Linked DNA regions of Homo sapiens: regions 1 and 2 are each linked to region 3. Evidence: fine-mapped expression QTL. A gene starts in region 3. Each other region holds a variant in brackets. All regions are shown on one strand. Distances are between the middles of the regions. Region 1 overlaps PDCD6IP (programmed cell death 6 interacting protein). Region 2 has its middle 95 kb from the start of PDCD6IP. Region 3 holds the start of PDCD6IP-DT (PDCD6IP divergent transcript).

The links.
Region 1: its variant is fine-mapped to the expression of PDCD6IP-DT in subcutaneous fat (GTEx, PIP above 0.99). The same link has a PIP of 0.9 or more in left ventricle and stomach.
Region 2: its variant is fine-mapped to the expression of PDCD6IP-DT in breast (GTEx, PIP above 0.99). The same link has a PIP of 0.9 or more in skin and whole blood.

What each region holds. Positions count from the first base shown.
Region 1 is chr3:33,821,367-33,829,366 of GRCh38, reverse strand. It overlaps PDCD6IP (programmed cell death 6 interacting protein), which reads right to left. Exons shown (of 18, transcript NM_013374.6): 4 at 7,285-7,412; 5 at 4,027-4,180; 6 at 2,787-2,887; 7 at 398-514. Among named protein-coding and RNA genes, the nearest start is that of PDCD6IP, 27 kb to the right of the region's middle. The variant T/C (reference allele first, on the strand shown) is at 4,305.
Region 2 is chr3:33,888,198-33,899,373 of GRCh38, reverse strand. No RefSeq gene overlaps it. Among named protein-coding and RNA genes, the nearest start is that of PDCD6IP, 95 kb to the right of the region's middle. The variant A/T (reference allele first, on the strand shown) is at 5,208.
Region 3 is chr3:33,794,748-33,802,993 of GRCh38, reverse strand. PDCD6IP-DT (PDCD6IP divergent transcript) reads left to right here and starts at 4,475. Exons shown (of 2, transcript NR_183731.1): 1 at 4,475-4,599; 2 at 4,972-8,246. It overlaps PDCD6IP (programmed cell death 6 interacting protein), which reads right to left and starts at 4,364. Exons shown (of 18, transcript NM_013374.6): 1 at 4,057-4,364. The coding sequence starts at 4,265. RefSeq lists enhancers at 3,668-4,201, 4,148-4,497.

The sequences.
Region 1 (8,000 bases), 26 kb before region 3:
AATTATTTTTACACTAAAATAAACATGACCAAAAAAGAGAACTGAATGCAAATTCTGCATGAATTTTTCAGATAAAATATGAGACCTCAAAAAACCATGCAGTAAAGTCTAAAGACAAAAACAATCTGGAGATGGCAATTAATTTAGAATTATTTTTACATTAAAATAAACATGGATAAAAAAGAGAATTGAATGCAAATTTTGCATCTATTTTTTAGATAAAATATGAGACCTCAAAAAAACATGCAGTAAAGTCTAAAGATAAAAACAATCACTTGTCCCTGCTGATAGGGGTGATGAACGGGAAAGGTTTTTATGGGCAAACTTGGAAATCTCACTAGGAAAAAAAAGAGAGATCCAAGTTAGTTACTTAAATATTTATTACCAAGAGACTCACCTGTAACCTTGCAATTTCTTCTCCAAATTTCTTCTGCTGTTTTGCCAGGATAGACTGATGGTACTCAGCATTGGCCTGCATGATACAGTGCTTTGCAGCCAAGACAGGGAACACCTCCTGGAAATAAAAATACTGACCAGGGGAGAGTCCAACCACACAAACCACCACAGACAACATGGGATGCAGGAAGAAAAAGGAAAAGAAGACAGAAATTAGAATCACCCCATTAATGGTTTAGAGATTAAGGTTAGTCATTAGGTGTAAACAGAGAAGACGACATGATTTTGTGTGGATTGAAATCTATGAATTAAATTTTTTTTCTTCCAATTGAAGGGGTTTTTTTTAACTGTTAACTGAAGCCAATTTAGGTTTTTACAATTCTCTTTAATTGATCCATGAAGTCAACATTTTGTTTACAAAAAGAAAAGCATGCATTATTAGAAAGAGAAGTAGAATGGACATTCACAGAGGAACACAAAGCACAGAGCTTTAGAAGCTTTCTTATGAGCCCTTACCCAGCCTGTAGAGTTAACTAAACCATCATTACTCACATATACTAATGAAATTGCTCTATAGATTACTGTTTCATCATGTTTTAAAAAAAAGACAGTAAATTTTCACTTAAATTCATATCCTAAGAGAGTTCTTACTGAAGATGATTTTAGCCATATAAAAATGATTTAGTATCATAGATACACTAATATTTCAGTGTCATATACTCAAAAACATATCATAGACAAATGCACTAAGTATATGACCAATGATAATGATAAAGTGTTATTTTGCCTATTTGTTTTGAAAATAATTCCAGTCAAAATTAATTTCAAAAGATCCAAAGACATAAAGCAGGAAAGCAATTATACTAGTGGTGGCTCTTCCAAAACGTCAAAATCTAACCTGTAACCTCACTGCTTTTAGGAAGTATATGATATTAAAAAAATCCAAGGAATTAGGCTAGACAATCACTATCTAAACAAAAAATGTAAGAGAATCAAAAACTGAATTACTACCTTGTGTGCTTTCCTGTCTCCCAGGGAATAATTTCCTACCTTCCTGGATCACTACTTGCAGACTTTTCAGTTTTATAACTAGAATATGAAAATACCTTATGAGCTTTATTAGTAAAAAGGAAAAAATAAAAGACATCTAAATTTCAAACTACACTCATGCCAGTTCTCAAGGTAAGGCTGGAGCAACTTGGTTCTGAAACAGGAGATTTTCAAGGAATACCAGGAATGCTGCAGAGGTAGCTTCCAAGTCTTTGTAGGTGACTTTCTTCTCTCCATGACAGGACTGAACTAATGGCCCAACAGGATGTAACGGAACACTGTGCAGCTGAACATGAGGTCTTTCAGATGAAAAAAACATGAGAGGAGATCCCAAGTCTCTTTTTAAGAGGAAGGCTGTTAATACCCAAGAATCCTGGGCAAATTTCTACTAGGCTCTTGGTGTATCTTAAATCCCCAGGAATCGTCACATTAATTCCTTATTGATCATTTTCTGAGTAATAAGTACTGTTAATGCACTTATGTGCATTTTTACTTCACCCCCAAGTTGTCTGCAATTTTTTAATGTACAAAGATTCCTGAATATGACTTACAAATCAATAAATTCCCCTACCAAAAAAAATCATGTAACAGATACCATATGATGAAACTAATTCCTTGAACATTTCTGAAGGAAGTAGTTGAAACATATATTTCACTCAATCTTTAAGTTTTCTTTATTAATCATTCCAAATTTACTAGTGATTTGCTTTGTCATTAACAAATGATCATCACTGAATAGTCTTTACAATTGTCACTTCAGAAAGGTTTACATTAAAACATTATACTTCCTGTGATATGTGGTTTAAGATGGTTGCTTTCCTTAGCTGTCCATTAGCAGCCCAATTTTTTATCCCTGTTGGCAAAACTGAATTCTAATCAAAGTATCAGATGAATTTGTTAAGTTTTCTTTTCCTTTTTTCTTTATGTCTGTTTTTGCGCTTTAAGGCTCATCTTTAAGAAAACAGGACAATAATTAAAAGTGTGAATCATCAACATGCTCAAGTATACATGCTTGTACCAAATCACCAATGATTCAGAACTACACAATGCCTTGATTTGATAAAAGTATTGAAAACAGATGGTCAACATTTTCCAGAAAGAGTTCTAGCTTGGAAAAACAAGTTTAGTAAAAGGTAAAGACAAAGGCATCCCCTAAACATAAAAGAATTGTTCATGCATCTTAAATTAAAAAAAAAAAAAAACTATTTCTACTATATACTTCAGATAACTCTATTAAAACTTCAAATTTCTTTATAAGTTTCAACTTGCTTCTTATACACAAAAAAGTCTAAATATTTCACATGCAAAGTAAGCAAGTGTTTATAAAAACAATAACTGACCTTGGGGAGAGTATCTTTGTATTGACACTGTTTGAAAGCATCACCAAAATAATCTGCAGCCTGATTAGCCAATTTAGCTATGATGGCATCTTTCATTTTATCTGGAATACAATATGACCATTATAATTAAAATAAATATGAGCTAATCTGACATGTCTCAGTATAAACACTGAGGTCACAAGTTTGTACACGCATCTGAAAACATCTTTCTTGATGAAATCACATTTTCTGCACAAAATTTAGAACAGACAAAATAGATTAGTGGTTGCCAGCAGTGGGGGAAAGGGGAGTGAGGAGTGACTGCTAATGGGTACATGGCTTCTTTCTGGGATGATGGTAATGTTCTAAAATAAGATAGTGGTAATCAAAACTCTATGAATATACTAAAAATCTTATGTTGTATACTTAGAAAGGGTGAACTTGAGTGTATATAAATTCTATCTCAATATAAGCTGTTATTTTAAAAGAAAAAAGTATTCCAATTCCTATTTCTTCCACATGATGACTTATCTCTTATTTTCAGTTTCAGCCCATATTACATATTCAGCCCATTTTCAATCTCTCATGCTAACTTATATGCCTTATAAGAATTATTCTTATTCCCTCATTCCCAGGGCTAGGGACTGTGCCTGGATGACTCCTTCTTGTCATTTAGGTCTACTTTAAAGAGGACCTCCTGAAAGAAAGCCTTCTTGACTAATGAATCTAAAATTAGCCCAGCTTCCCCTATATCCCTATCCCATAACCATACCACCAGCCACTATCATATAATTCTCTTATTTTTTATAGCAATTATTTCTGAAATCTTATAGCAATTATTTATGAAATTATCCTGTCTACTTAATTCTTGCTTATCATCTCTCCCGTCGCCAAAACCTAAGTTGTTTTCTAACTCCGTTTATCTAGAAACTAGAACAGTGACTGGCACAGAGTAAGTATCCAATAAATATTTGCGAATAAATGTCTGACATGTTAAAAACATACATAAATACTATTCCAGAATGGAGTGTTTAAAGACAATTACTAAAGATCTATTTCATGACTTCAAACACAGCCTACATTCTTAAATGTAAATTTGTGCCACAAATTCAGAAAAGGATAGCTGAAAATTTTCCATAATTCATGTATCAAGTTCAAGAAGGACAGCTCGACATTGAACATATTATATTCTAATCACTTTCTTAATTTAAAAGCCTTATCACTTTTTTTCACATGCAACAAAAAGATAAATTGGAGTTACCTCTTGTGGCTTTTAAAAAAAATACTTCTTGAGCCTGTGCCAGCATAATAAGACTGAGGGTCCCAACAGTATCTGGAGATATGTCCACGGTCGGCTCTCGACTTAAGGCAGATAAAACCGTCTCTTTAATATGTAAAAAGGCACCACTAGCAAACTAAAGGGGGGAAAAAGAATTTCTTTATAGGAACTCAGCAAGACTTAATTTCCTACTGTTACATATAAAAGTCATTTCAAATGTTAACTCAGTGAACAGTTAATATATTTAAATTTTTATATTA[T/C]GCAAAACCAATCTAAAACATCTGACCTACAGACAATAAGGTTATCTTTCTAAAACTCTATAGCGTAACAAGAGATTTAACAAAGATTAAAAGTAAATTACAAGGAAAAACAAAGTAAACTAATGGAACAATCTGATTAAACTATTTTTAGATATACTTCCTCAAAATTAACATGAGAATAGAGGCGGGGATAAACATTAAAATATTTTTAGTACTGCAATGCTCTTGCTTTGGTCCCAAACAAATTCATCTTTCAAATAATTAAACATGCCGTAGTTAGGGGACACCCCAGGTAGTACATACACCTAGTCCTCTGAGGAACAGCATTACTACCCATTGCCAGTGATTTCTGTCTGGCCTTCAGAGCTCACTAGTGAAATGTTCCCCATCAGATTTTTCATCTCAATTATATTTTGTTAATACTAAAATAACTTTGCTTTCATGAAACAAATTATACTAAGAAAAAGAAATAAATCAGTCTGGGATTAAAAGGTGTCATGAGTTGGCCGGGTGCGGTGGCTCACGCCTGTTAATCCCGGCACTTTGGGAGGCTGAGGTGGGCAGATTACCTGAGGTCAGGAGTTCAAGACCAGCCTGGCCAACATGATGAAACCCCGTCTCTACTAAAAATACAAAAATTAGCTGGGCATGATGGCACACACTTGTAATCCCAGCTGCTCGGGAGGCTGAGGCAGGAGAATCACTTGAACCCAGGAGGCGGAGGTTGCAGTGAGCCAAGATCACGCCATTGTACTCCTGCCTGGGCAACAGAGCGAGACTCCATCTCAAAAAAGAAAAAAAAAAAAAGGTGTCATGAGTTAGATAAATAGACAACACAGAGAAAACTCAAAGTCAAATGTATTAAAATGAACAGCATGTTTCTGCAGTCAGTAAGTATTATAACACTAGAGTATCTGCTAGGAATGAACAACTGAACTTGTTCAGTAAACTAGTGAATCAAAGTCTACAACAGCAAAGTGTCTGAGTCTCTCATTTACAGATAAGGAACTGGAGGTACTAGAGAGGTTAAAGAACTTGCCCAACGGCACAAAGCTTCTGGGTGGCAAGCAGCCTAGACAAGGACCTAGGTCTAATACCACCAGTTATCTTTCCATGATACCAGGTGCCCTGCTGTGAACCCTCACAGAATGGAATGTTTCTTTCATAATTCAGAATGACCTTTCTAAAATCTCATATACTAACTAACTGAGTTACAGTTAACCAAAAGCTAAATAAAATTTTACTTCGTTTTCACTACTGTATTTTATTTTATTTATTTTGAGACAGAGTCTTGCTCTTGTCGCCCAGACTAGAGTGCAATGGCACAACCTCAGCTCTCTGCAACCTCCGCCTCCTCGGTTCAAGAGATTCTCCTGCCTCAGCCTCCCGAGTAGCTCAGACTACAGGCGCCCACCATCACACCCAGCTAATTTTTCTATTTTTAGTACAGACAGGGTTTCACCATGTTGGCCAGGCTGGTCTGGAACTCCTGACCTCGTGATCCGCACACCACAGCCTCCCACAGTGCTGGGATTACAGGCGTGAGCCACCACGCCCAGCTCGTTTTCACATTTTAAAATATTTGCCATGTATAGCCTCAAAAAGAAATAGCGTATGCATTATGTTTGTCATCTATGCCCATTCAAAACTGTAAGGCAAGCCACAATTTGGAGCGTGTTGTTTGCTTACGGTATATTTTCCTTTTACTTTCTCAGAACAGCATCACTCACCTCTTCCCTAAACATAAACAACGGGAAAAAGCAGACTACCTCTGAGACAAGCAAATTTCATGGGAGGTTTGGGAGTGAAACAGTGGAAGGACATTTGGAATTACATGAAATTTGGAATCAGAACTATTGAAACCCAAATAGACTGCTTTATTAAGACTTCGGACCTTTAGCCTCCTCGTATGTAAAATCGGAATGACATTATATGACATACATCACAAGGTTTATCTGAGAGTCAAATAATGTACATGAAAACACTTTGTAAATTAGAAAGTAATATAAAATGACAACATGATTATATATATATTATTTAACAGTAATCATTTACTGTTCTTTTAACCAAAACAAAAAAAAGCTGAATAAATAATAAACAACTGCTGGCCGGGCATGGTGGCTCACATCTGTAATCCCAGCACTTTGGGAGGCCGAGGTGGGTGGATCATGATGTCAGGAGATCAAGACCATCCTGGCTAACACAGTGAAACCCCATCTCTACTAAAAATACAAAAAAAATTAGCCAGGCGAGGTGGCGGATGCCTATAGTCCTAGCTATTCAGGAGGCTGAGACAGGAGAATGGCGTGAACCCAGGAGGCGGAGCTTGCAGTGAGCCGAGATTGTGCCACTGCACTCCAGCCTGGGCAACAGAACAAGACTCCGTCTCAAAATAAATAAATAAATAAAATAAAATAAACTGCCACAAAATAACATGCCATATTAGTAAATGATCAGTACGTAAAACAGATTAGGCAACTTATGAACATTATGTGTCTGACCATATTTAAATATGACCTCTCCACAAGTCTCAAAGTTAAAATTTTATTTTCTTGCCAATTTCTTGTCTTTATTTTTGTAACAACAGTGAAATTTCAAGTGTGTCTCACTCTAAGAAAACATATGAAAATAATGTACAAATTTTTTTTAATTAGGTAATTTATTTAAAATGGATTTACCCTAAATGCCTGAGATGAAATCTCAGACATTTCATAATTTCTTCAACCAACAATTATTGAGCCTCTATTATGTGCCAGGCACTGTGCTAGGTGCTCGGTATAAAACAATGAGGAATAACAGACCTGGTCTATAGACAGTTTATCTAAGGGCTTTAACAGTAAGAATAAATTCATTTTAAAAGTGCATTCGTTTTAGAAAACATCTGTTGCGTAAGAAGTATCTATAAACCTAAATGCAAATTATTTTCCACTTAATCCAATTTAGTGTTGACCATTATTGTAGTAACTACTTTTCAGCATACCTGGTAATGTTTAGCAGCGATTTTCAATCCTTCATCATTATCCAGGTTCTGTTCTGCTGCAATTTGGCTAGCTAAGGCTGCACAATTGAACAACACACAGCTCTTTTCATATCCTAAGCTTGCAAGAGCTGTAAAAAATTGAGAAGGAAAAATTCATCAGATTATTTTTTCTAAAGAAAACAAATGTTTCAAAGAGAAATACTATGACCTCTCTCATCCCGCTGACTCTCACAAAAACAAGTTTCCAGACCTGTTTTCTTGCTGTCATATGCTCCCATATTTCAAGCTGCCCTTACAGGCATTTATTTCCACAACAATATTCCCATCACCCAAAACGCTGAAGAACAGTAAGTTATTCTTTCTCTCCTTCCCTTTACTTCCACATTTCTATTACAATCAAATTCAAATGTAAAAGTCATTTTCATGTCATTTCTCTCAGTTTCTTAAATTTGAATAAATTATTTCCATTTTTCTGTCACCTCTCAAAATCACATTGTCCCACCACAATCAAACCAATTCCTCATTACCACAAATCTAAGTCAATGCAATTACCTCCTAGCTGGCCTTATGCTTTACTCCCTCATGCAAATACATTTCTCAAAGGGCTAGCAGGTTAGCTGGGCTAAAACCCAACTCTGATTAAAAAAAAAAAATCTACACACCTCACATCCACTTAGGATAGCTCCTATTAAAAAACAAACAGAAAATAAGCATTG
Region 2 (11,176 bases), 95 kb before region 3:
ACCGTACCCGGCCATCTTCTCACATGTTTTTCCTTCCCTTGTCTTATCTGCCTAGCAGAATATCTTCATATATTCACTCACCAAATATTTATTGAGCACTGATTGGATTTCTGTCAGGCACTCTTAATCTTGCTTCAAGACTCAACTCGTTCATCAACACCTCATAGCAGCATCTCCCAGGTCTCTGAGCCCCAACACGTTGTAGAATCATCCATGACACTCATTCCCATGTCACAGATCTGTTTCCATAAAAAGCCTCTCCCTTCCAGACTGGGAAATCCTGTAGCACAGCACTAGGCCCCTCCCACCCTGTGACTTCAGTACCTGGTAGTGAAAGAGTGCTCACTCTGTGTATGAGGAAGGAGTGACTGGTCACAGGAGGCTTGAGCCAGCAGAGAATAGAAGACAGACATAGAAGCCTATAACACAAGGCTGAAAGTGACAGATTCCACACAGGTCCTAAGAAAGGGCTCCTGGACACCACAGGATGGAGAGGCCACAGAGACTAAAAGGTGCCATCCCCACATCCTAGACACTGTGCAAACTCAAGATTATAACAGGCCTTAGCTCCAGTGAGAGGCGCACCCCTTTCATGCCTAGAAGAATTACAGCTGTACAGACAGAGCAGAGCAGAGCATGGATGCACCAAAAACAAAGAAACAAAAATGAGCCAATCCTCCTTATAAATATCATTGCAAAAACTCTTAAATATTAGCAAACAGAATCCAGAAACAAATTTAAAAATTAATACTACCTGGCCAAGTGGAGTTTATTCCAGGAAAGCAAAGATGGTTCAATATTAAGTAATCTATTAAAATAATTCAAAAAATAGTTTAACCACCTCCAGAGATGTTCAAAAAGCATCTAACAAAACTATATATCTTCTTGAGGACAATTTCATTTAATAAAAATAGGACTATTTCAGAGACCTGTAGAAACTGTTAGGTGTTTCCAATATGCATCCTTTCCTTGCATAGTAATTAAGTACCTGAATACTATGTGGACACTTGGCTGCCTAGAATAAAAATGGTATTCTCCTAGCTAAGTGTAACCATGTAACTAACTTCTAGACAATGGGATATAGGCAGAAATGGCATGCACAACTTCCTGGACATATACTTAAAAGAGGAGAGAATGTCCATTTTAGTCCCTTCCCTCCTTCCTGCTGGTGGGAAAGTGGCACAGCTCCTGGTGCTGGAGCAGCCATCTTGGACCACAAGTGGAAACTGAACATTGAAGAGAGCAGAACAACAATGAACCTTAATGTAAACAGAATTTGGTATGCACAGGTAGGAAGCTTCAAGTTACAAAGCCTAAAAAGTGATATTATCCAGTACAATTAGGGAGACAGCAGACGGCAAAGACGTAGACATGGGTACTTGTCTAAGCTGCACATTTTTGCACATTCTTACATCTCTGAAAGTGATCTGCATCCTAAAGCTAAGAGCATCTGACAATTGTCATAGGCCTTTTTTTTATATGTTAACATTTTTGAGTAAGATGTGTCTAACAATTACTAACATCTTACATGAAATACAGTACCACAGGCTGATAATCTGGTGACTCTTACTCCATACAAAGCTCATGGGTGAGTTAAACCCTCACAGGTGGTATCTTGAAGACAACCTGCCAAAGGAGGCTGAAGCATTAGGAGAAAATCTTAGTTTTGGTGGGCATTAGCTGCTTTTTTGTTTTCTTTCATGCAACTCTACAAGACAGATGACCTCAGTCTAGAGCCAGCCCATCAGAAACAGAGATGGAAGGGAAAATAATTTTGCTAAGAGAGGTACTTTCTGTCTGTGGCTGAAAACCTAAGTTGACTGATAGTGCAGTATTTTTATGGCCATGAGCAATAAAAGACAAGGAAGAAAGTTCCCTTGGGCAGAGGCAGGGACACCAGTAGATAATGAACAGGGCATTTTTCCCAGAGAACAGAAACAGGAGATCCAAGTAGCCCCACCATGAAATGTGTTCTACAGCCAGAAAAGGGAATCTTTGCCATTAGAGCTCACTGTAATCTCTGCCATGGACCAACGTCTACAGCATTTCCCATTTTCCCTTTTGAGCATGGGAGTTTCTGTTGTGATTATCCTGTGTCCACTGAGTGACTGTATGTCAGCTGTGTTGTGACTAAATAACTTTTCTTTTAGTTTAAAGACCACCAGACCAAGACAGTGGCTCACACCTATAATCTTAGAGTTTTGGAAGGCCAAGGCAGGAGGATTGCTTGAGGCCAAGAGTTCGAGACCAGCCTGTACAACACAGTGAGACCCTGTCTGTACAAAAAAAAAATGTAAAAATTAGCCAGGCATGGTGGTGTGCCTGTAGTCCTAACTACTTGGGAGGCTGAGGCAGGAGGATCACTGGAGCCCAGGAGTATGAGGCTCCAGTGAGCCATGATCACACCACTGCACTCTGACCTAGGTGACAGACCAAGACCCTGTCTCTAAAATAATAATAATAATAATAATAAACCAAAGGAAGCCTATTTGGACTTCATGGGCAGAACTGGCCTTTGGTCAGAGGCAGGACCTAAATGGAACTCCCCTTGGGGCAGGAATTATTATGTTCCACATAGAAAAAAAAGCAGATACTTAGCTACCGTAAGCAGTTGGTTGTAGCAGACACTGCTAATGACAGATGCTTTGTTGATGTGATAGATATATGTATCTCAGTCTTTAAACCAGCCTCATATTTAATGGGAAAACACAAGACGCACTCTCATTAAAGTCAAGAAAAAGAGAAGAATGTCCACCATTGCCCTTATTATTTAACATAATTCTGGAAATTCTATCCAATGAAGTCAACAATAGATGGAAATATAAAGTACAAAAAAAATTAAAAGTGAAGACAAAGATAGGAGTACTTGTTACTGATATGATTATTAACCAATAAAAGTCCAAGAGAATAAGATGAAAATCTATTGTAAACAATAAAACATTTTGTAGGTTAGAGGGATAGAAAATTAATATGGAGAGCTTAATAGCCAGTTAGAAGGTAACATAGAGGAAAACATCTCATTTGTAATAACCAAAAATGATAAAATACATAGAAATAAACTTAAGATGTGCAAAATCTGTGTGAAGAAAAGTTTAAATTACCCCTAAAGGATGTATAAAAAAAAGACCTGTACTAATAAGAAGGTATACCATATTCTTAAATAGAAAAATCCTTTACATGGGCAAAGAAAGCTTTTCAACAAACATCTCATTTTAAAAAGCAATTTGAGACATTATGATATGTTACCATATTATAGTAATTAAAATAATAGGGCAGGACACATGAAAGAATAAATACATGAAAGGAACAGAATGTAAAGCCCACAAAGAGGCCCATGTGAGTCTGCATAAATAGATAAACACATCACATATGGTCAGGGTTACACTTTAAGTCAGTAAGAAATGGTTTTTTTTTTTCAACAAAATAATGTTTGGAAAACTAAATAACTGATAGCAAGGCCACCACATTACAAATATTTTTTCCTAATTTGTTGGGGTTTTTTTACTTTCCATATGGTGTTTTTTGCAACTCAGGTGTTTTTTTTAATTTCCATTTTTGTTTTATGTAGTCAAATGCATCAATCTCATTTACTATGATATCTGGGTTTGTATAGTTCTTAGAAAAGTCTTGCCCATTTTGAGATTAAAATAATTCTATTTTCTACTAATATTTTATGACTTTACTTTTTAAATGCCCAAATCTTTGATCTACCTGGAACTTATTTTAGTGAAAAATGTGAGGTAAGACCAAGTTTATTTCTTCTAGTGTGACTTCACAGATAACCAAGCTGTGTTCAGTAAGAAAAGAAATCCCTTCTCTGGTTCCAGGTTCTTGCCCCGGAACCAGATGACTTTACCATTCTTGGCATTAGAAAAGTACTTACTGCAAGGAGTCAAACAGCCTGCACTGGATGGGGCCCCTGTCTTCAGCACCAACCCTACACAATGAAATGTGTACCTGTCAGTGACCCTGCATTGCCTCCAACAAGAACAGGCTGAAGGAATTTGGGACCCTGCCCTGCTTTTCACTGCCATCTCACTGTGGCTTGCTCTCTAACCTCATTATCTGGGATGAAATACCTTGTGGTTCCTGAAATTCACTGCTCACCACATTCCTTGACTAACTCATTTTTCAAAACTAAACTTTGCCATTAGTACTGGAAGCCTTGCTTTACACAAGACACAGACACACACACACACACACACACACACACACACACACTAAACTACACTTTCCTTACCCACACCCGTCCCTCTGGGTAGTCCCTCCCTTTGCTCCCAAACCCCTTCACACACACTATGACCAAAACAGAAACCACATTCCACATTGTGCTGTTCACTGCTGTGTATCTTCCCTTCTAGACTCCAAACAAATATATCTGCTGCTTATGCTGTCTCTTCAGTTAGTGCAGAGGGGTGCTGAATAAATGGTTCCTGAATGACTAAAGGTCTTCTAAACCTGTTCCATTAGTAAGTATTTTTCTAATGCCAGGAATGGCAGTCTTCAAGAAGAATATGATGTTCATGAAACTGCTATACATAATGTCGAAAAATGCAAATTATAAATGCTTAATTTGCAACAGAGCCAATAGTCAGCCAGCCACCCTGGTATGCGACAGCATGGCAGATTTTTTTGCAAAAATAGCCCAAATTATTCTCCTCCCTATATCAACACCTCTTTTCAATGTGACTTTGCACATCCTTCCATCCAGAAGCAGAATCTGTGTCTGTCGTTTGGGTCTGACCCTGGGACTAGCTTTGGCCAATGAAGTATGGCAGAAGAGACATTTTTGCCAGTTTCGAGCACAGGCCTCGGGGATCCTTGCATGTTTTTGCTTGTTTTCTTGGAACTCTGTCCTACCATAAGAAAAGCCTAAGCTGGCCTTCTGGTGGATGAAATACCTGTGGCGAGTTATCCCCATCACTCCAATTGACCTTGCAAGATCCAGAAGCAGATTGCCTAACTGATCAGCAGCAGACCACAGACACATGATTGATGCTAGTCAAGGCCATAAGAATCACCTAGCTGATGCCAGCACAAATTGCCAACCCACAGTTTCACCCCAGGGATGCAGGGATAGTTTAACACATGCAAGTCAATAAATGTGATACATCACATAAACAGAATTAAAAACAAAAACCAAATAATCACCTCAATAAATACAGAAAAGTATTCAATAAAATCCAACATCCCATTATGATTTTTTT[A/T]AAAAAACCCTCAACAAACTAGGCATAGAAGGGACTTACCTCAAAATAGTAAAAGTCATATATGACAAACCCACAGCCAACATCATACTGAATGGGGAAATTTTGAAAGCATACCCCAACAACTGGGACAAGACAAGGATGCCCACTTTCACCACTTCTATTCAACATATACTGAAAGTCTTAGCCAGAGCAATTAAACAAGAGAAAGAAATAAAGGACATCCAAATTGCAAGAGAGGAAGTCAGACTATCACTCTTCCCCAGTGATATGGTCATATACCTAGAAAACCCTAAGGACCCCGCCAAAAGACTCCCAGATTTGATAGATGAATTCAGTAAAGTCTCAGGTTATAAAATCAGTGCGCACAAATCAGTAGCACTGCTATACACCAACAACAAACAAGTTGAGAATGAAATCAAGAACTCAATCCCTTTTACAACAGCTGCAAAATAAAACAAAATACCTAGGAATATACTTAACCAAAGAGGTGAAATATCTCTACAAGGAGAACAACAAAATACTGCTAAAATAAATCATGGATGGCACAAACAAATGAAAACACACCCCATGCTCACGGATTAGAAGAATCAATACCATGAAAATGATCATACTGCCCAAAGCAATCTACAGATTCAATGCAATTCCTATCAAAATACCAACATCGTTTTTCACAGAATTAGAAAAAAAAATCCTAAAAATCATATAAAACCAAAAAAGAGCCCAAGTAGCCAAAGAAATCATAAGCATGAAGAACAAATCTGAAGGCATCACATTACTGGAATTCAAATTATACTACAAGGCTGTAGTCACCAAAAGAGCATGGTACTGGTACAAAAAGTAGACACATAGGCCAGTGGAACAGAATCGAGAACCCAGAAATAAAGCCAAATACTTTACAACCAACTGATCTTTGACAAAGCACACAAAATCATAAATTGGGGAAAGGACACTCTGTTTAATAAATAGCACTGGTGATTCTAATGCCCCTTCCAAAGATGAAAAAGTTTGGGTATTAATGGAAAGAAAGAGAAATAGTAGCTAAGAGTAAAGAAATAAATAAGTGGGTTATTAATTGAGGAAAATTCAATATTACATTAACGACCCAAGAGTCTCAGAGCAAAAGATGACATTGTCTCTTAGCTCATTATTCCAGATACCTGTAAGGGTGAAGCTGTATATTTACCAAGGCCACTCCTGCTTTTGGAACCTGAAAAGATTGTGAGGAAACCTACAAATGTGAGTGGCCTCATCCTGGGAGACATTCATACAATATGATAGACTGAACTAGTTATTAATGATTGTGTATACAGAGATAGATAGATAGATAGATAGATAGATAGATAGATAATAGATAGATAGATAGATGTAAAGGATCCGTGGTTAAAAATCAGGAGTGGCCTGTGGTGTTATGATATATATTGATTTTCATCCACAGTTCTGGCTCATAACTCCCATAACCCTTGTTGCAGTCTTTTGTTATAATGCTGGGTGTGTTAGGCCTCTGACCTTCTCCCGCCCTCCTTTCACCTGCCCCAAGGTAGGACTCTAATGTTCTCCACCTTTCTGATTGTGGATGTTTAGACTCTCCCATGAGAGGGTCGCACACTATCCCCTGGGGCAAAGGAATACTGATGTAATGAAGCTTCCATAAAAACTCAAGAGGACTCAAGAGGGTTCAGTGAGCTTCTGGAGAGCGAACATAAGGAAGTTCCTGGAGCAGGGCCCACCCAAGGAGAGCATGGAAGCTCCAAATCCCTTCCCCTATACTTCATCCTATGCTTCTCTTCATCTGTATCCTTTGCAATATCTTTTATAATAAAATGGTAAATTAAATAAATTAATAAATGGTGCTGGGAAAACGGGCCAGCCACATGTAGAAGATGAAACTGGATGCCTATCTCTCACCTTACCCAAAAATCAACTCAAGATGGAGCAAAGAACTATTTAAATCAAAGACCTGAAACCACAAAAATTCCAGAAGATAACCTAGGAAAAACTCTTCTGGGCATTGGCCTAGGCAAAAAATTAATGACTAGGACCCTAAAAGCAAATGCAACTAAAACAAAACTAAATAAATGGCACCTAATTAAACTAAAAAGCCTCTGTACAGCAAAAGGAATAATCAGAGTAAACAGACAACCCACAGAATGGGAGAAAATATTTGCAAACTATGCACTCGACAAAGGACTAATACCAAGAATCTACTAGGAACTCAAACAAATCAGCAAGAAAAAAATGAATAATCCCATCGAAAAGTGGGCAAATGACATGAATAGGCGTTTCTCAAAGGAAGATCAGGGAAATGCAAATTAAAACCACAGAGAGATACCACCTTACTCCTGCAAGAATGGCCATTACTAAAATGAAAAAAAAAAACAATAGACGTTGGTATGGGTGTGGTAAAAAGGGAACACTCACATACTGCTGGTGAGAATGTAAATTAGTAAAACCTGTATGCAAAACAGTATGAAGATTCCTTAAATAACTAAAAGTAGAACTACCATTCAATCTAGCAATCCCACTACTGGGTATCTATGCAAAGGAAAAGAAGTCATTATGTCAAAAAGACACTTGCATGTGTATGTTTATTGCAGCCAACTCACAGTCGCAAAGAAATCAATCAGTGTAAGTGACCATCGAACAATGATAAAGAAAATGTGATATACATACACACCATGGAAAACTACTCAGCTATAAAAAAGCACAAAATAATGTCTTTTGCAGCAACTTGGATAGAGCTGGGGACCATTATTTTTTCTTCTTTCCTGGCCCACTGGCTACAAAGGAGAGGAGGCCATTATTTTCAGTGAAGTAACTCAAGAATGGAAAACCAAATACCATACGCTCTCACTTATAAGTGGGAACTAAGCTATGAGTATGTGAAGACATACAGAGTGAGATAATGGACTTTGGAGACTCAGAAGAGAGAGGGTGGGGCACAGTGAGGGATAAATAAACTACACATTGGGTACAATGTTCACTACTCAGGCGAAGGGTGCACTAAAATCTCAGACTTCACCGCTATGTAATTCATCTGTGTAACAAAAAACCACTTACACCCCAAAAGCTATTGAAATTTTAAAAACTATATTAATTTTTAAAAATTACAAACCCACAGAATTATGGGCTAAATGGATTGTTTCTTTTAAGTCACTCTGTTTTAGAATGGTTTGTTACACAGCCAAAACTAACTTATAAAACCGGTTATTAAATTGTTGCAGGGGCCAGGCACAGGGGCTCGAACCTGTTCCAGCACTTTGGGAGGTCAAGGCGGGAGGATGGCTTGAGCCCAGGAGTTTGAGACCAGCCTGGACAACATGGTGAGACCCTGTCTCTATAAAATAGATAAATAGATGAAAATGAATTGTGGCAGGAAGATCGCTTGAGGCAGGAGTTTGAGACCAGCTTGAGCAACCTAGCAAGACTCCCACCTCTACAAAAAAAGAATTTTAATTAAGAAAATAGTTACATTTCTTCCATATCAGTTAGTAAATATTCCCTACCCAACCTCCCAACCACCAACAATCTACCCTACAATCCAGCAACAAATGAATTAATGTCAGGTCCTACAGAGACCTCCAGGACATACTCTGTTTCTATAGCCTAGAGTGTTCTGATTGATCAATATGAATATCAGTTGTTAAATATTTTTGAAATTACCACTGGTCAAAGGAGCATGACTAAGCCAATTATGATATCTCAAAATATATAGTTACTAAAAATAACTATATGAACTGTATGTTTATAAAATCATGCTATAAAATAATATTAAATGGAAAAGAACAGATTACAATCAACTGATATGCATTCATTATAATAACACTAAATGCCTATGTGCACATTGACAAAGATGAGAATTGAAATTGTAGTACCAAAAGCTTGGTGGGGTTTTTTTCTCTGTACTGATTTTATTTTAGTGCACAAGAGAAAACAACTATAATTTTTCCAAGTAGAATGTATTTAGAAACTTTTCTTCCTGGAATTGGGAATCTCAGAGCAAAGCCCTAATCTTGAATATAATGCATTAAGAAAAAGTGTTTAGCTTCCTATAGGCAATATGTCCTAAATGCCCATTTAAATTTCTATTTTTAAAGGCTAAAAATTTGCAACATGAAAACAAAATCAATGTGCTCTAGAATCAATCATACTCATTTAGGCTAATATTTATTCATCTGTAAATAACTTTGCTTAATAAACTCCTATTCCCCAACCCAACATGGAAAGAAACCCTGTTTTTGCCAAGTCAGCTCCCAGATTTTTGTGATGCAAAAGTTATAAGATGAGTATGGCAGACATTGCTAGCTTCTTACACAATATCCATTCTTCCCTTATCTATTCAGGGCCTTATTTCCAAGGCTCCCTTGTAGCTAGCAATGGCCATGTGACCGTCTCTGGCCAATGAGTGTAGGGAGAATTCTACCGGCTGGGGCTTCCAGAAAATCAATTGTTTTTCTGATGTAAAGAGACCATTCAGCAGGCACATATCTTTTGCTTTTGGCCATTCCCCCTCTTCTAACCTGGAATGTAAGCATGACGCCCAAAGGTGCAGCAGCCATCTGTGAGATGAAGCAAACCATCCACCCTAACTGGCAGAGCAGAAAACCAGGAAGAGCTTCTGGCACAGCTGTGGAGCATCTGCCTATGGACTTCTTGTCTGGGGAGAGATTATAAATCTCTTACTTATTTTAGCCACTGTAATGAGGTTTCTGTAACATACTGCCAGACACAACACTGGCAGATAAAAGAGGGGAGATGAGTCCTGAGAGACAGGAAGAAGGTAGGGAGGATATGCGCAGAGAGGCCAGGTCAATCTCTTTAATAAAGAACTAGATGAGGAAGGAAGAAGCAAGAGAAAAATCAGCTCTGGATTGTGGTTACAGGAGCAGCTTGGGTGCTGGCACAAGAGACCATCCGGAGGAGCTGAGGAGTAGAGGCAAGGGTCCTTGAAAAGTGGAACTGTGGCTGGTGACTCTTATCCCCTCGAAGTTCAACAGAGTCATGCAGCAAATGGAATTCCTTCTCAAGTACTTCTGGCTGCTGAATTTTGTTTTGTTTTTGTATATGGAGAACTCTGCAGAGACTGAGCCATGTGGAGGCCCAGGGTTCACTAGGGTTATAGAAGAACTAATCTGGGAAAGTTATAGATGACAAGGACAAGTGTTGCTGTAGTGAAAAGGGCAGAAACAAGGAAGCAAGGGATGTGAGTTCAAGTCCTCATTCTTTCACAATCTGCTGTGAAGCATTAAGCAAGCACTTTGTCGCATCTTGCTTCAGGTGCCCTTTTGTAAAAGCAGAGAGGCAGACCAAATGTACCCTAAGAACCCTGTCAGCTCTGTGACTATAGTATTCCAAAAGCTACTGTAAGGGCAGGACATCTGGACTCCTAGAAGGATATCCCTTCCTCATGTAGCTTTTCTTCTTGTCTTTGATGGCACTATATTGGGTGCATGAGGGTGGGGTTTGCAAGGAAAAAGAGGTCCAATTCATTAACCGATATTCCAATTCAATAAACATCTGCTGATCACCCGCTCTGAGTTGAGCACTCAGATTAATATGGCCAGAGGATTCCATCTAAGCTCCTTAGCAAGCCCCAGAGGCCCCCACCATAGGGCCCTGTCTGACTCCTTGGGCTTACACCCCCTGGTTCTCACCCACGTCCTTACTTCTGGTGTCCCTCAGCCTACTGGGATACTCGGTACCTCCCCAGGCCTACTCCAGATATGCCTTCTTGCCTCATATGCCCATCCCTTTTTGACCTTCCGATCTGGGAAACTCCTACTCATCCTTCAGTGCCCAGAGGTGGAGGGGTGATGGGGAAGCAGCCTTGAGAGTTTTCAGCTGGTAGCTGGCCTCATCTCTACCTGCTAGACTGTGTTGTCCCCTGATGAACACAAAATCTTTCAGAGAATATCAGTAGCAGTTGAGAACTTCAGAAAGACTTCAGAAAGAACTTCAGGAGCAGATGGCTG
Region 3 (8,246 bases):
GAGGGAAGGGAGCCAAAGCAGAAGCCAAATCATGCCAGAGAAGCCAGAAAAGGATCTGAATTAAGAAACATGAGGTACCTCTGAAGGTAGTTCAATGTGAGGCTGGAACGAGAAGGTATGGTTGAAAATCCTTCAAAGAAAACTTCAGGCTCCCAGATCCTCTACTCTGAAGGTAGGTTCACTCTCAAAAAAACGTCAGAGATTGGCCGGGCACAGTGGCTCACGCCTGTAATCCCAGCACTTTGGGAGGCCGAGGCGGGTGGATCACCCGAGGTCAGGAGTTCCAGACCAGCCTGACCAACATGGAGAAAGCCCGTCTCTACCAAAAATACAAAATTAGCCAGGCAGAGTGGTTCATGCCTGTAAATCCCAGCTACTCAGGAGGCTGAGGCAGGAGAATCGTTTGAACCCGAGAGGCGGAGGTTGTGGTGAGCCGAGATCATGCCACTGCACTCCAGCCTGGGTAACAAGAGCAAAACTCCACCTCAAAAAAAAAAAAAAGAAAAAAGAAAAAAATGTCAGAGATATCAAATATAACTAAGGTGGAGATCAAGCACTGCTAAGTGGGGTAGGGAGTGCTAATTGACTACATCATTATCAGTCTATCCTATTCCTTATTAACAAAACTGTGTCCCTTTAGCTGAGTATACAGCTGCTCATAATGAAAATTCCTTTTCCTAGCATCCTATCAGAAGGACACACAAAATGGCCGGTAACATATAGGCAGGGTGTTGTGGAACAGTTGCCAGGAAACACCCTAAAGGGCGAGCCCCGTGCCTTTCTCCATCCTACTACCTGGAACTTGGATATGATTGCAACCTGGACCTGAGAACAATATTCTAGGTTTCAAACAGCAGAAAGCTGAAAGGAATCTGAGCCCCAATTAACTCCACAGAAACACTACACCAGCCCTGGGCTACCAGAACTACCTACCTGCCAACTTTTTACAAAATAAAATCTTAACTCAGATAATTTGGGATCTACCACACAGAAATGAACCTAACCCTAATGCAGGTGTCATACTAAAAATAGATGTACCTGATAGACTGCATACATGATTGTTAAGATCCCCAACCTCCATTCCCCAGGATAAAATTTAGAAAGCTGATAAGCAGACTTTTTCATGGAAGACTAGAAGCTTTCTCTCTAAAGAAACTGATCACCACAAAAGAAATTACACAATGCTGGTAAATGGTATATCTGGAGCTTCAAATAAAATACAAAATAAAAATAAAAAACCAGCAGGGTTCCCATTTGATCACCCTAGGTCACCATTTACCAAGGTCTAATCAATTTTTAGTAAAAGCCACTTTATAAAGGAAGAAGTATCATATAAAAGGGTTTTTTGTTGTTGTTGTTTTGTTTTGTTTTGAGACAGCGTCTCAGTATGTAGTTCAGGCTGGTCTCCAACTCGTGGGCTCTAGTGATCCTTCTGCCTCAGCTGGAATTATGAGTGCATGCTACCACACCCAGAACAAATGAGTTTTTAAGTACTCATTCTCATTATTATAATATGCATAAATGTATATTTTAGGAAATTTTAATAGAACACCTACAAGTTAGTAATAAGAAAACAAGTCTATCACTGGAGCAATATATGGAGCTGCATATCAGGACTTATCAAGCTGGCTTCAATTATTTAGGAATTAGTTTAAACTCTGTTTTTCAAAGTTCATTAGTTTAAAAAGTTCATTAAGTTAAAAAATTAATGTTAAGTTTACACAATTATCCAAACATAATTATTAAAAATAAGATATTCTGCCGGATTTGAATGAACATCACACAACTGATTCACATCTAATTTTACAGCGTATATACCTACAAAACTTTTGTACCTACCTCCATTATAAACTTTAGTAATATCTCCAAGCTTACCCTAACCCCTCTAGAAGCCCAAAAAGTGAAAATACTTAATATTTGTTGAATTAATGTGGCAGGAGGGGATTATACAGAGGTGACTAAAGAAACATGGTTAGTTTCAAAGAGACTATATCTACAACAGGTCCACTACCTAGGAACAGTTCACACATTTAAGTCTGGTAAAAAGAATAAAGGAAGGAACAAATGAATTAAGTTTTAAAGTTGACAGGAGAACCGTATCCAAACCATTATCCACCAACCTCCCATGTCTGTTAGCTTAAAACCCATGCACCAAGTGCTTCTGAAGACCCCAAATCTGAGGGCTGGAACCAAATTTGATATATTCAACAAGATTTTTATCACAGGGCTCATTATACCACAACTATGTTTTCTTAATATTACTAATGGAAAATCCTCACTGAATGCTATTCATGCCTACATAAAAATTACCTTGAAATTGTTTAATTATGTTAATTCTAAAGAATGGCTAAGTATTTCTAGGTTAACTTTAAAAAAAATGCTTATGCTATTAGACTAATGATCCTTGCAGCCCAACAGTTGTAGCTCTAAAATTTGACACCAAGGGGTCTTAATTCCTCTGAGCAATCTATTCAGTACCCCTTCCTTCGGAGAACCAACCCTTCCCCAGTCCGGACTCATCTTGCTTTGATCCATGGGGTAAGGAGAAATTAAACCGGCTGGATGACTCAGATAAGGGCAATTAACTTAGCCCATTTCCCACCATCATAAATGGGTGCAAACAAACCCAGGAGCCTCCCATGGACTTCCACCAGAGCTAAGGAGAAAAGCACTCCCTTCTGTAAGATACTGAGTGTTGCGGACGATTGTTATTACACTACAGCCATCCCTCTCAATACATGAACAAAGCTTTCGAGGGAAGCATCACGGAGGCAAGACGATCTCCAGTGATACCTAAAGCTAAGGAAGGAATATCCCTAGACTTTTCAGTTAGCAGAATAAGTCTTACTTTTTTTTTTTTTTTTTTTTTTTTTTGAGATGGAGTCTCACTCTGTCGCCCAGGCTGGAGTGCAGTGGCGCGATCTCGGCTCACTGCAAGCTCCGTCTCCCAGGTTCACACCATTCTCCTGCCTCAGCCTCCCGAGTAGCTGGGACTACAGGCACCCGCCACCACGCCCGGCTAATTTGTTGTATTTTTAGTAGAGATGGGGTTTCACCGTGCTAGCCAGGATGGTGTCGATCTCCTGACCTCGTGATCCGCCCGCCTCGGCCTCCCAAAGTGCTGGGATTACAGGCGTGAGCCACCGCGCCCGGCAGAATAAGTCTTTTCTTAGCTCAAGCTAGTTTAGCCTGGGTTTCTGCTACTTGGATTGGAATACAATTGTGATTCTCCTGTGAAACAAGTAGAATATACTATACGGAGAAAACGAGATTAACAAGGTATGCAAAAGAAATGTTTAACTATAAAATCGTAAAAAATGTTCTTATAACTATTAAGTATCATGAAAGGAACCCTCATTAAATCAGCATGAGCTAAATAAGCGTTTGCTAAAATAACAAATTTACTCTACTGTGTATATATCTGTTTGTGAACAAACTGCTTTTAAACAACCTACCTTGAACGGTTCAACTATGTAACTAGAGTTTTATTTCAAATAGTTGTAGCTCCTAACTTTCAGAATTCTCCATCTATCATTTGATTATTTTGAACTGAGGAAGACGGTCCATTTCATGTGGACAATGTGATGAGCTGATCAGACATTTGGTCCAGTGTCCCAATTCCCCCACTTCCCCCACTGCCTTCAAGCAACTACTATTATGAAATCAAAATGTGGCCCAAGAAAGACAGTGATGGAAAAATGGGGCGAAAGGGGAAGCTTCAGTTAGAGACCCAAAAAAGTGAAGACTAGTTCTAAGTAAATGTGGCAAAAGAGATCAGTACAGGGCAGACTGCTGCTCCCAGGTATCTGATCCACGGAGCCCTCGCCGACCAAGGGCTAGAGCAGACGTGCAGGCAGGACAAGCGGGCAGTCACAGCGGGCCTGCAGGGCGGGTCCTGCTCACCAGCAAAGAATGCAGACCACACCTACGCGCCTGGTCAGGCCGGGACGGGGCGGCTCCGCCCAGGTTACAGGATTGAAGGAAGGGGGGAGACGGGAAGAGGAGCGGCGAGCGACGGCTGGCAGACAACCTACCCACTCCCAGCCCCGCGCCCACCTCAGGAGCGTCTCGAGCGCGCCCTCGTGCTTGTCCAGCGGACGACCGACTGCGGCGCGGCGCAGCTTGCTGAGCTCCTCCGCCGCGCGGCAGTACTGGGCCTGCTCTTCCCCGCCGCTTGGGTAAGTCTGCTGGATGAACTTCACCAGCGGCTTGGCCAGGTCCACCTCTGAGGTCTTTTTCAGCTGCACCGAGATGAATGTCGCCATGATCAGCGCCTCCGCCGCCGTTCGGGCCAAACAGACCGCGGACAGCTTACGAGGGCCGAGGAGAGAGAGGTACTGGGCTGGCGGACTGGCGGACTGACTGGCTGACAGACTTGCGCTCCGCCTGCGTTCCGGGTCCGGCAACTTCCGGGAGCTCCAGCGCAGGCGCACTGGATGCGGGGTCCTTAAGCTGTCCGCGGTCACGTGAAGGTGTCGCGGCGGCTACGCCCACCTGGACCCAGTTTACCCTGTACTGTGCTGCAAAATATTACTTTCTCCCCATCTGGAATTCTTCCCTTCCTCCTTCCTGCCGCAGTGGTGTACTGAGCACTTTCACGTAAGAGTATTCCTCCACTCGAACAACCCCCCGGAGAAGTACTGGTGTCACTGCCACCTGCGAGAGTTTGCGGCTACCTCCCCAAGAGGCAGTCCCAGGGTTATTGTGACCTATGATGTTTATTCAACTACTGTTGACGGGCTGCTGTGCACAGGGAACCTAGTAGGCAAGACCCCTGCCATCGTGCAGCTTACTGTCAGGTTGACACAGACCTTAAGGTAAACGGAAAAAGTATCAGGAAAAAAACAGGGTGCTTGGGACTTAGGAGATGTTAAGATCGCTTGGAGGACCCTAATTTAAATAAGATAAAGTAGGTTTTCTCCGAGTAGGTTAACTGAAAATGAACCTGTGTCTCTGGTTGCTGTTTTGTAGAAAGAACAAAATTTTAAATAAATTAAAAACGACACCTGTAATTTGAGAAGATGCTTGATATCAGAAGAGGAGAAGAGTGGAGAGGGGTGGAGTGGCAAAGGAGAGCCTCCAAACCAAAAGCCTGCGGCAGAGGCCCTAGGAGGCAAGCACTTAACCATGTTTCAGGACTAGAAACGAAACATGTGACAAGACCTTTAAAAACAAATAGAATGGGATGGAATAAAGTTGGATGAGTAAGCAGGCATCAAATCATTCAGAAACTTGTTGTCCAAGTTGAAGAATTTGTTTAGTATTGTATAATAAATGCAGAGGAAGCTATATACACTTATAATTTACATTTTTTAAAGGCCACGTTGTAGCTCAATCGGATAGTTTGTCTTTTGATGGGATGTAGTATACAGTATCATCATGGTATATTCCAGGCAAAAATATTTAACTTGAATCTGTCAAGCCTTTGCATCTAACACAGTTTATAAAAAATACAACAGATAGATGAACAAACTAAATGATGCCAGAGGAAGTAACTAGACAGATCCAGAAGGTGAAACATTCTGCAGGATAACTGGCCCATCTCTTCAACAATTTGTCATGATAAAAGCAACTGCTTTATGAAAAGAAATTTAAGGGACATAACAGTTTGAATTGGATCCTGGTTTGAACAGACTGTCTATAAAATGCATTTTCAGGACCATTAAAGAAATATGAATGTAGATGGACTGAGTATTGGATAAAATAGAACTGTATTGCCATGGAAAAGATCATTAACTGAAAAGAGCAAGTCACGAAATAGTATGTTACAGCATCTCATTTTGGTTTAAAAATGCACATATATGTATTTATGTACAACTAAAAAAATAGTGGGCTTATACCCTAAGGTGTTAGTATTGGTAATCTTTGGAAGTGGAAATGTGTATTTTTTTCTTTGTGTTTGCCTATCTTTTTCATTGTAACTTTTGCAGCACATAGACTACTTTCATTATAGTAAAAGTTTATTTTACCACAATTTTTTTTTTTTTAGAAAGAGTCTCACTCTGTCACCCAGGCTGGAGTGCAGTGGCACAATCTCAGCCCACTGCAACCTCCACCTCCCAGGTTCAAGCTATTCTCCTGCCTCAGCCTTCTGAGTAGCTGGGACTACAGGTGCACACCACATGCCTGGCTAATTTTTGTATTTTTAATAGAGACTGGATTTCGCGATGTTGGCCCGGCTGGTCTCGAACTCCTGGCCTCAAGTGATCCACCCGCTTTAGCCTCCCAAAGTGCTGGGATTACAGGCGTGAGCCACTGCACCCGGCCTATTTTACCACAATTTATAAAAATTTTTGTTTATTTTAATTAAGCTATTCTATGTTAAAATAAGTAGCCACCCTTGGCTGATGCATAAAGAAAAAATTAGAGGAAGGAAAGAATGGAGGCAAGGAGGCAAATCATGAGACCATTTCAGAAATCAAGACGAAATCAGGAAAGCTAACATTAGCAAGAGTGAACCAAACTGATAATATCTTTGAGTTTAAAACTGAAGAATTTACCAATGAACTGCATAGGAAAGTAAAGAAAAGAGAGTGGTCAAGATAGGTCCTGGTTTTGGGGCCTGAACATCTGAGTGGTTAGTAGAATCATTACCAGTTGATAACCCATGGAAGAGGGTGGGGGATGGGTGGTGTCTTGTAGGTTGGTTGACAGGACTGACCCATTGGGAAGATAACGAAGAAGCAAAGTATATGAAAAGAGGAGAAAGGGTAACCAGAGGAGGGAGGATACAAAGGGAGTGATTAGCCATCAGAAAGATGAGGGACATGACATTTGTTGAGGCAGATGGCGGAGAAAAGAAAGTTAACATAGATGTGGTTAGTTTTGTGGCATTGACCAAAGGAAGATTAAGGTGATACTATCTGATGGCTTGGAATGAAAACCAAACTCCCTGCCACAACATGATGATCTTTCTCTGCAACTTCATATTTTGCCTCTTGTTCCTCATTTGTTACCACTGAGTCACAATGGTCTTTTTAGTTTCTCAAACACACCAAGATCTTTCTTGCCTCATGTGACCTAGAATGTTTTCTCCCTTTCTTCATATCTCAGTTGAAAGGTCTCCTCTCCTCATCATCATACTATCTAAAGTAGATTCCCTCCCTTGTTAACCTCTAGCGCAGCCATTAGTTCCTTCATAACACTTACCCTAACTTGCAAGTATTTTGTTTGTTGATATAATTTTTATCTGACTTCCCCACTAAAATGTAAGCTCCATGAGGGCAAAAATTGTGTGTTTTGTATACTGATGCATCTCTAGCACTTGGTATAGCAGGCATTCAATAAATATCATTAAATAAGTTTCACCCTTGTAAAAAAAAAAAATATATATATATAAAATATATTCTCTACTTCCAAAATAACACACTTTCACCAACAACAAGCACTCCAGCTAATTAGGCAATAGGCCAATAAGCAAAGAATTATGGTATATTAGTCAAGATTGGCTAGCTTATGTTCTGACAATAAACAATTTCAAAATCTCAGTTTCAATTTTAAACTCAAAGATACTAATAAACATTTGTTCTTTGCTCACACAAAGTCTAATATGGAACAGGCTTAGAGTTGTCCTCCAACCAGTGTCTGAGCAATCCAGACCACTTTGATCTTGTAACTCTGCCATCCCAACATGAGATTCCACTTTCACTGCAGAAGAGGAAATCTGTAGCATCATGCAGCAGCTTGTCACTACCTCAGCCCTCCTACTTCCACTTGCATTTCACTAGCTAGAACCTTTCACATGGCTCCACCAAACTGCAATGGGACTGGGAAGGGAGAATCAGATATTAGGGAGCATTTATAATGCCTTCCAAGGGTGTGTTTCACTGCTTCCAAACTTGCTTATGATGATGTTTTTCATTTATGTAATGAAATGCCATATGTTCTTAGTGTGTATTCTCAGCATAACGAGTACATTTGGAGAATATTAAGTCAGTGGACTTTCCTTCTTGAAAATTCCTGGTTCTGGGCCTATCATTAACCCCACTGATTGAACCAGTGGAAATAGTTGCCTCTTCGAATGGAGAGAACCCTGCTGAAGGCAGCTTTGAGTTTCAAAATAGTGTGTTTCAAGTCCACATGGAGACGATAGCCTGAAAGTAAGCACTTATGATTTTTGGAGGAGTCTTTGTTATTAAGGAGAAAAGAGGCTTACAGAAGTCAGATTCAGAAGACTGTAGTATTTTTACAATAAATGAGAGTAAACAGTATAAGGATTTGATGTAAGGGAAGTTCCTGCAGTGCAA